Homo sapiens: one gene and its partner. The protein of the gene in region 1 interacts with the protein of each later gene in a pairwise test. Each region holds a gene or a part of one and is shown on either strand. Other genes may lie near its edges.

Evidence for each region.
Region 2: the proteins of EBF3 (region 1) and ATPAF2 interact in binary tests that used the Homo sapiens proteins (3 or more experiments, as listed by UniProt).

The regions. Positions count from the first base shown.
Region 1 is NC_000010.11:129,957,668-129,961,578, forward strand, and holds part of EBF3 (transcription factor COE3), read right to left. Parts: intron 1,341-3,911; coding exon 1,267-1,340; intron 1-1,266. UniProt on the Homo sapiens protein: Transcriptional activator. Recognizes variations of the palindromic sequence 5'-ATTCCCNNGGGAATT-3'.
Region 2 is NC_000017.11:18,025,346-18,029,256, reverse strand, and holds part of ATPAF2 (ATP synthase mitochondrial F1 complex assembly factor 2), read left to right. Parts: intron 1-597; coding exon 598-642; intron 643-879; coding exon 880-1,025; intron 1,026-2,840; coding exon 2,841-2,938; intron 2,939-3,911. UniProt on the Homo sapiens protein: Plays a role in the assembly of the F1 component of the mitochondrial ATP synthase (ATPase).

The DNA of each region.
Region 1 (3,911 bases):
CAGCTTCGGCTTTTGTTTACCTCTAATTGTCAAGCTGTTATTTCTGGAAAAGATGCAAGATGCCACCTTCAACCAATATTTCTTTGGGGCATTTATTAATTATAACCACAAAAGCATGCATCCATCTATCACAAACTTCTATTGTTCCTTCTTTAAGCCTACCTTAACTCTGTTATTGAAACTTTAATTAAAGCAGAAATGAAACAAAAATGTTATGCTTCTTGCATTTTAAAAAAGCATACTTGTATAATGGTTACATGTCTAAATTAGCTAAATTAACACCATATGGTAGGCAAAGTATATAAAGCCTTTTAAAGCTGACAGCTAAAGTGATTAAAGAAAGTCTACAGTCTTCCACTTAGAGCTTAAATCACATCTGTGCGCTTTCTATGTTAATTGCAGTACATGCAGAAGTGGATAATAAAGAAATTCCACTTTATTGGTTGTAATTTATATTTATTACCTGATATGAGAAAAAGTCAGCTTTTGTATATTAGTGCTGTAACAATATGTCTGCTCAGAAATGGCATTTAGGCAACCGGCATCATAGCCAGGCGGAGTATGCCCCTCAGAGTATGCGGCCTGCTACTGTAGCCTGGAAGCCTGCAACGCTTTCCTTGCTATTCCTTGCAACTATATTTCACATGCCACACATACAAAGTCAATGATGCATTTTTATTTGCCATGTAGGGGTGAAACTCTTGTGGTAGTTAGAAAAAACAGGTGGGAAATTGCTCTTCTGACAGAGATCTCAAGTAACGGGCACGCTATCTAACAACGACACGAACGCTGCATCGCTGCTCTAGGGAAGAGGTTAACTGACAGAATCACAATCCAATTCTCACATACACGCGCGCTATAGTAAGTACAAAAGAGTTTCCTTTTTATCAATAACAGACAATTGTATATCTCAGGATGCGAGCGCCTGAGAAGGAAGTAGTAAAATGATTCCGAGTGATCCCTGACTCCTCCGGCACCGCGGACGGATGCATCACCCAGACCTGTTTTCATTTTTGACTACACTGCAACGACACGGCCCACATATTAATCCGCTCTGCTGAGCAGCGGGTCGCGTTGATCGTCAGCGCTGGGGGGAAGGAGCGCGGGCTCCTCCGCGGCCCGGCGCGCGGCCTCGGGCCGATTACATTTCAATCGATGCCCTTCCCGGAGCTGGGCGGGGTGGCGGCGCCTGGACGCGGCGTCCTTTGTAGACGCAGCTGGCGCCGAGGCAGCCCGCGCCCCCGCCGCCCGCCGCCCGCCGCTCACCTGCACATGATCTCGTGGGTCAGCAGCACACGGCACATCTCCGGGTTCTTGTCCTGGCCCTCGTAGACGATGGCCTGCGCGAGGGACAAGCAGAGGCTGGGGTTACGCGGCGCCCGCGGCTTTGGCGCCAAATCGCCCCGGGCGCTGCAGGCCTGGCTGGCAGCAGGTGCACCACGCTCGAGGGGAGGCGATGCGCCCCCCTCCCTCGGCCACCCTCCCGATGGGGTCACCCTCGGAGCTGGGCTAGGCCGCGATGGCTTCTCCCTCCCCTGCCTCCCAGCCTCCTCCCCCGGGCGCCCGCCAGGCCTGCGAGGGGCCTTCGGCTGCAGGGAAGGCGCCGACTGGGCTCGGGCCGCGGGGAGGGCAGGGCGAGGGAGGCCGGGGCCGGGGCGCAAGGAGCGAGAGCCCGCTGGCACCGACCCCGGAACCCGGGGCTCCCGGGCCCCTTCGGCATTCCGCGCCGCCGCCAGGCCGCGTCCTCAGGCCATTGTCTACAACGAGTTCCAATCTGCATGTTGGGAGAGGCCGATCAGAACGCCCCGAGGCTAAAGAAGCAGGGAAGGATGGTCGCGGCGCAGGAGCAGTTTGCCAAGGGCCGAGGGCCGCGCCCGCCCTGCCCTGCGCGCTCCCCCGGCTCTAGCAAGTCTGGCGCCCCGCGGCTTCCCGCGGCTTCCCGCGTTCCAAACCCAGGCGCCCGCGGGGAGCAGGCCGCCCTGGACCGGCCGCCGTCCCGAGCTCCCGGGGCCTCCCTGAGTGGTGGGCAGCGACCTGGCCTCTGCACGCTGCGGGCGGCCTGGGAGCCCAGGCGGGAGGCCCAGGAGCAGCAACCGCACGTGGGCCGCGGCGTCGCCAGCGCCCCGCAGGAGTGCCGGGGCCCCAGGGCGCCCGAGCCCGCGCGGCCACGTGCTCCTCGCCGGATGATATTTGGAAAGAAAGTGCTAATGGCCAATCTGGTGTTTATTTTGAAACTGCTAACAGTGATTTTTCTCGGGTAAAAAGGCAGTCTCTGCGCGCACGCTCGGGTGGGTTTTGAGCAGAGGCTCCGCCAGATGGTGCGAAGCCCTAGGTGCGCTCACGGCCGCGCTCAGCCCGGCTCCGCCGCTGGGAACCCGAGCTGGGGATCGGGAGCCGCCCGCCCGGGCTGGGCCTCCACCACTGGCCTCGCGAAAAAACAGAAAAGAAAAAAAAAAAAAGTCTACTGGGGGAGGGGCGGGAGGCTGGGGCCGGGAGCTCCAAGTTCCCTGCATAAAATTCCACGGAAGGGGGAGGGATGTCCTCTTCTCCGGTTCCCGCCCCCACCCCTGAAAATTATCTGGAAATTCCTTCCAACCTCCCCGGGCACTTCTGACACTTTCCTCTACTTCCAGGCGGACAAAGCCCTTTCTGGTGAAAGCCCGGGGCTGCCCTCCTGGGAAGAGGGAAGGTTCCCCGCGAACCCCGCTCACCCAGCCTCCTGCCTGGACCCGGCTCAGAACCACAGAAGTGATGGGTGTCACCGCAGGCCAACGAGTCGCCTGGCGCTGCAGGGCGCGTGGCCGCGGCGGGCACCAGCGCTTCTGAGAGAGTGGCTTGTCCTCCGATGGATCGCCGTATTTATATTTGATTTATTTTTTATTTTGTAGCACAAACAGAAATCCATAAACTGTCGGTTCAGCGCCATTGACTCTTTGATCAGTTACTGGGCTATTTCTTTCCTTTTTTTTTTTTTTTTTTTGCCCCTCCATGCCCGTCAGTGAGAGGAGATTAAATGCCTTTATTTTCAGCCCTGTTTATACTGCAAAGGTACAAGGCTAAATGAACAATAAAAGTGTACTTAAAACGAAGCCTCCTCCTCCTCTGTGCAACAACAGAGAAACTTAGGGCTGCCTACATAAACCTCTTAATTAGACTATAGCGATTTCCGAAAACATTTAGCCATTATATACAAAGGAAATAAAATCACCCTGTCAACCAGCAGCCGGAGTTCCAGAGGCTTCTCTGAATCGAGTGAAATAATTACAGAAGGGCACACCGCCTCTGTCTTTGTCAGAAAGACCTTAGTTTACCTGTCAGATCTGTTTTACTCTAAGAGAAAAGCACACTGGTTTACCACTGCAGGCATTAAAATCTAACACCCTTGCTACCTAGGTAAGGACAAACTTTTTAAAGGGGAAATAAAATGTGCAAACTAATTGCATGCAGAGAGTGGGAGGCATATGTGCTGGGCTGCAGGAAGCCCCAACGAGCTCTCCTTTACTTGGCTCACAATTCTTAAAGTTAGCATCAAAACCGAAGAAGCCACTTTCATTTCTAAGTGTGAAGTCCAGCTTGGAAGTATATTTTAAAACAATCTGTGCCGAGTGGATTTAATCTACAAACTGGACCTGCCCCCCTCCCCACCACAACACTCTATTTTAAGAAAATGGGGGCGGGGGGAAATCTTTAAAACAACCAAATCAACAACAACACACCACCCAGCACAAAACCAGCAGCCAGAGACTGCACAATGTCAAAAAGCAGTGACGCACTTTTCTCCACTTAATCACATTACTGATAGCCAATAGTTATCATCGGAAAAGTTGACCAAGACAGGTTAAATAATTTAATAAGGAACTGCTTGTAATTATGTTATTTACAAGGTATGACAGAGGGTGGGAGAGGGGGCA
Region 2 (3,911 bases), on another chromosome or scaffold:
ACAAAGGACATAGATTTTCCCATTCTTGAAGGAAATGTTTGGAGTTCCTGTTGGATACACAAGCAAGCTGGTTAATTAGGTTAATTAATTGGAGAGAGGGGATGGGAAATGCCCTTGGGAGCTCTGTATCCTGCCGATGTATCACACACGCACACCCTGCGCACGCACACTGGCTTTCCACTCACTCCTTAGAGGCATCAGAGTCTTGCCTGAAATGGGTCTCTAGCTTTGTCCCACTCAGACACCGACTTTAGGTTTGAACTCGTTGTGCTGGCATGAGGTGGCACTGGTGGTGGGGAGGGTGGGAGAGCATGCCGAGATGCTCCTGATCAGACTTGTCCCCAGGCTGCGGGGCTGGCAGAGGTATGACCAGCATGTTCTGTTCCTCCCTTCTCCCTGGAGATCAGATGTTCCCTTCCCCCAGCTTTAATCAGAAGCGGTTGATTATACCGTGTTGAGTAGGGCAGACCTTGAATGGGGATATGAAAATCAAGCCAATCAATCAACATTAGCAGTAATGATACAAGCTGGTCCTGTCGCTTCCTGAGTTGTCTCAACGTTATTTTAAACTGCCTCTTTGAAAAATCTTTCTTACAGAAAGGAAGAGGTTTTATCAGAATGTCAGCATCACACAGGGTGAAGGTGAGTGTCTGAAATTTTGACTGCCTCTTTTTTTTTTTTTTTTTGTGAATGGTTGGGAACATTTTTCATCTTCAGCTGGTTTCATGGTGCGATTATCCTTCCTGCTTTTTGTGAGATATATTTCTGTAAGGGACTCAGAGTTGGCTTTGTCTGCACCAATTCAAGTGGCTAAATATAGGAATGGTCACTTGATTCCACTTAACAAATCCCTGAGAGTTTTTCATTTGATCTTTCAAGGTGGCTTTGAGATAAACCTGGACCACAGGAAGCTGAAAACTCCCCAAGCCAAGCTCTTTACCGTCCCCAGCGAGGCCCTGGCCATTGCAGTGGCTACTGAGTGGGATTCCCAGCAGGATACCATCAAGTACTACACCATGCACCTGGTAACAAGTTCACAGTGTGAACCTGGACCCTGAGACCCACCCAGGGCTTCGTAGGGTAGACCCTTTACCAAATTCCGACAAGGCCCTGGGGGCTGGTCCTTTGCCTGTCTGGCCCCCAGGGATTCACCTCCTCTCAAGTCACTAACGTGCTAAACTCTTTCCTTGTCTGGCCCGGCTACTTGCAGCTCTCTCTCCTAGGAACACTGTGCTGGATGGCTGGTTTCTCCTTTGGTTTCAGGACAGATGTCACCTTCATTGACTGCCCAGCTCTCTTATTTTCTATGACAGCAGCTGGCCATTTGTTTTGTCAGCACTTAGGCAATTTATAATTGTTTTATGTTTGCACATTTATTGTCTGTCTCTTCCACTGCCTGGTAAGCAACAGAAGGGCAGGAGCCATGTCTGTTTTACTCATCAGTGTCTGGACAGCCACTAGCAGGTAATTTAGTTGGTACTCAGTAAATATTAGTTGAATATAAGATCCACTGGAGGCAGATGGGTGAGGTGAGGAAGACTCCCTATAGAACCAGCCCCCTCGTCCACACCAAAGTGGCTCGCCTAGGCACCAAGGCTGCCTGGGGAAGGAAGGGCCCAGCTACACTCTTAGGTCCAGCCTCTGCAGCTTCTAAACTGTAACCTTGGGCAGGTTGCTACCCCTTTCGCAGCCCCATATTCCCCACCGATTAAAGATGAGTGATAATAGTACCCACCTCACGGAGCTGTGGTCAGGATGAGATGAGATGATGCAAGAAAGCCCTTGGCATGGTCCCCAGCACTGACTGGGCACTCAGTCAATACAGGAGTCAGCTGCTATCATCCCAGCCGCTGCTGTGCTCAACCTTTGCAAACCCAGGTGGGCCTCCTCCCAACATCACAGCCTGCTGAGGTGGTTGGCCTGGTCCTTGACAACCTAGTGAAATTAGGGTGATTAGGGCTACAAACGAATAGGGTAACCTAAGCAGCCTATTATTGACAAGGTAAGTCTGGAAAAAAAAAGATCTTTTTTTTTTTTTTAAACAGTCTAACTCTGTTGCCCAGGCTGCAGTGCAATGGCATAATCTCGGCTCACTGCAACCTCTGCCTCCTGGGTTCAAGCGATTCTCCCGTCTCAGCCTCCCAAGCAGCTGGGATTACAGACGTCCACCACCATGCCAGGCTAATTTTTGTATTTTTAGTAGAGATGGGGTTTTACCATGTTGGCCAGGCTGGTCTTGAACTCCTGACCTCAGGTGATCTGCCCACCTCAGCCTCCCAAAGTGCTGAGATTACAGGCGTGAGCCACCACACTTGGCCGAAAAAAATAATCTTGATCCCGATTTGCATGGGCTATTTCCCTACTTTCTAAGGTGTAAGGGAGGCAGCTGGTAAAGGTTTCCAGTCAGATTTGAGCTCCATCACTAATACATGTCTTATTAACTGTATTTGACAATGTACTTAACCTGTCTGGGCCTCAGTTTTCACATCCCAGATGGACATAATAATAGTACCTACTCCAAAAGGTTGTTGTGAGGATTAAATTAAATACACTAGAGCCTGGTAATAAAAGGCATGTGACCATGGGGGAGGTTCACTAATCCTGGGGCTGCTGCAAGCTTCCCTCGAGTCCTGTGAGCGTCAACACAAAGCATTTGGCATGGAGCCTGGTTGTGGCACACTCTCAGTAGCTGTGCTGCTGCTCCGGTAATGCAGACGCCTCTGGTGGAGGGCTGTGCTGTGGTGCTGTCTGCTATGTGTCAGATGTGGTGTCCTCAGGAAAGCAGGGCTTTTGCCTGAGCCCCGCAGGCAGTGACAGGGTGGTTTTTGCCTTTGATTCAGACCACATTGTGCAACACATCATTGGACAACCCAACCCAGAGAAACAAGGATCAGCTGATCCGGGCAGCCGTGAAGTTTCTGGACACCGACACCATCTGGTAATGGACATTTAGATGGGCATTCCCCTTGGATTGAGGCTATTTTTCCTGATTTGCCCAGATGGTTATCAGTGGAAGAAGAAACCCTCTCCATTTATTGCAAGGACAAGGAAGGTGGCCCACTTGACTTTGGCACTTGGCTGCTCTGTAGCCCCTTAGGAGGAGGACTCCTCGGGCTACAATGGTGTCAGAACATGGCCACCCCTCTTCTCTAGCCCAGAAGCTGCTCCTTAGGCTGGGAGGGTGGTTATGCAGCTCTTGCAGGTGCCGTGACCACAGGCCCCTTAGGCCTAGGGGGGCCTGTGACCTTAAACTTCTGCCCACCGACACTTTCTCAGGTAAAGCATCCTTGGCACTATGGATGCTGATAACTAGGAGTGTCCTTCTCCAGTTCTGAATTCTCCTCTGTGTCTATGTTTCTTGGCTAATTGTTCAGTGATGCCAAAGGAAAGTTGAGAAACAATGGAAATGATTGAGCAGCACCGTGCCTGCTAGCCCAAGTGCTCTAGGATCCTGAGTCATCTCACGATGACACAGGAAGTCAGCACTGATGGCTGGAGGCGTGCTTTCGAAGGGGGTGACCCATAGCTAGTGGGAACGCCCACTCCATTTATATTAGGGTTCACTTGATTGCAGGGAGCAGAAACCCATTCAACCTAGCTCAGACAAAAAGGGGATTCTTGAAAACTATACAGGGATCCTGACAGGAAATGAAGGACAGTTGGGTCACCAGGAAAGGTAGCTGGAAGATCCAATGTCAGAGCTCCTCCCTGTGCCCTACTAGGGTGAGAGGAAGGTGAGGGAGGAAAGGCTGGTTGTCCATCTGCCCCTCCCAGCACCCCAGCTTTTCCTGCATAACTCATGACCTCTCTTCCCCACTTTGCTTACACAAGACAGTGGATTTCCATAGTGCCCACTTGGATTCCCATCCCATGAGGCCCTGCAGCTCAGCTCCTCTCAACTGGCTCATGTC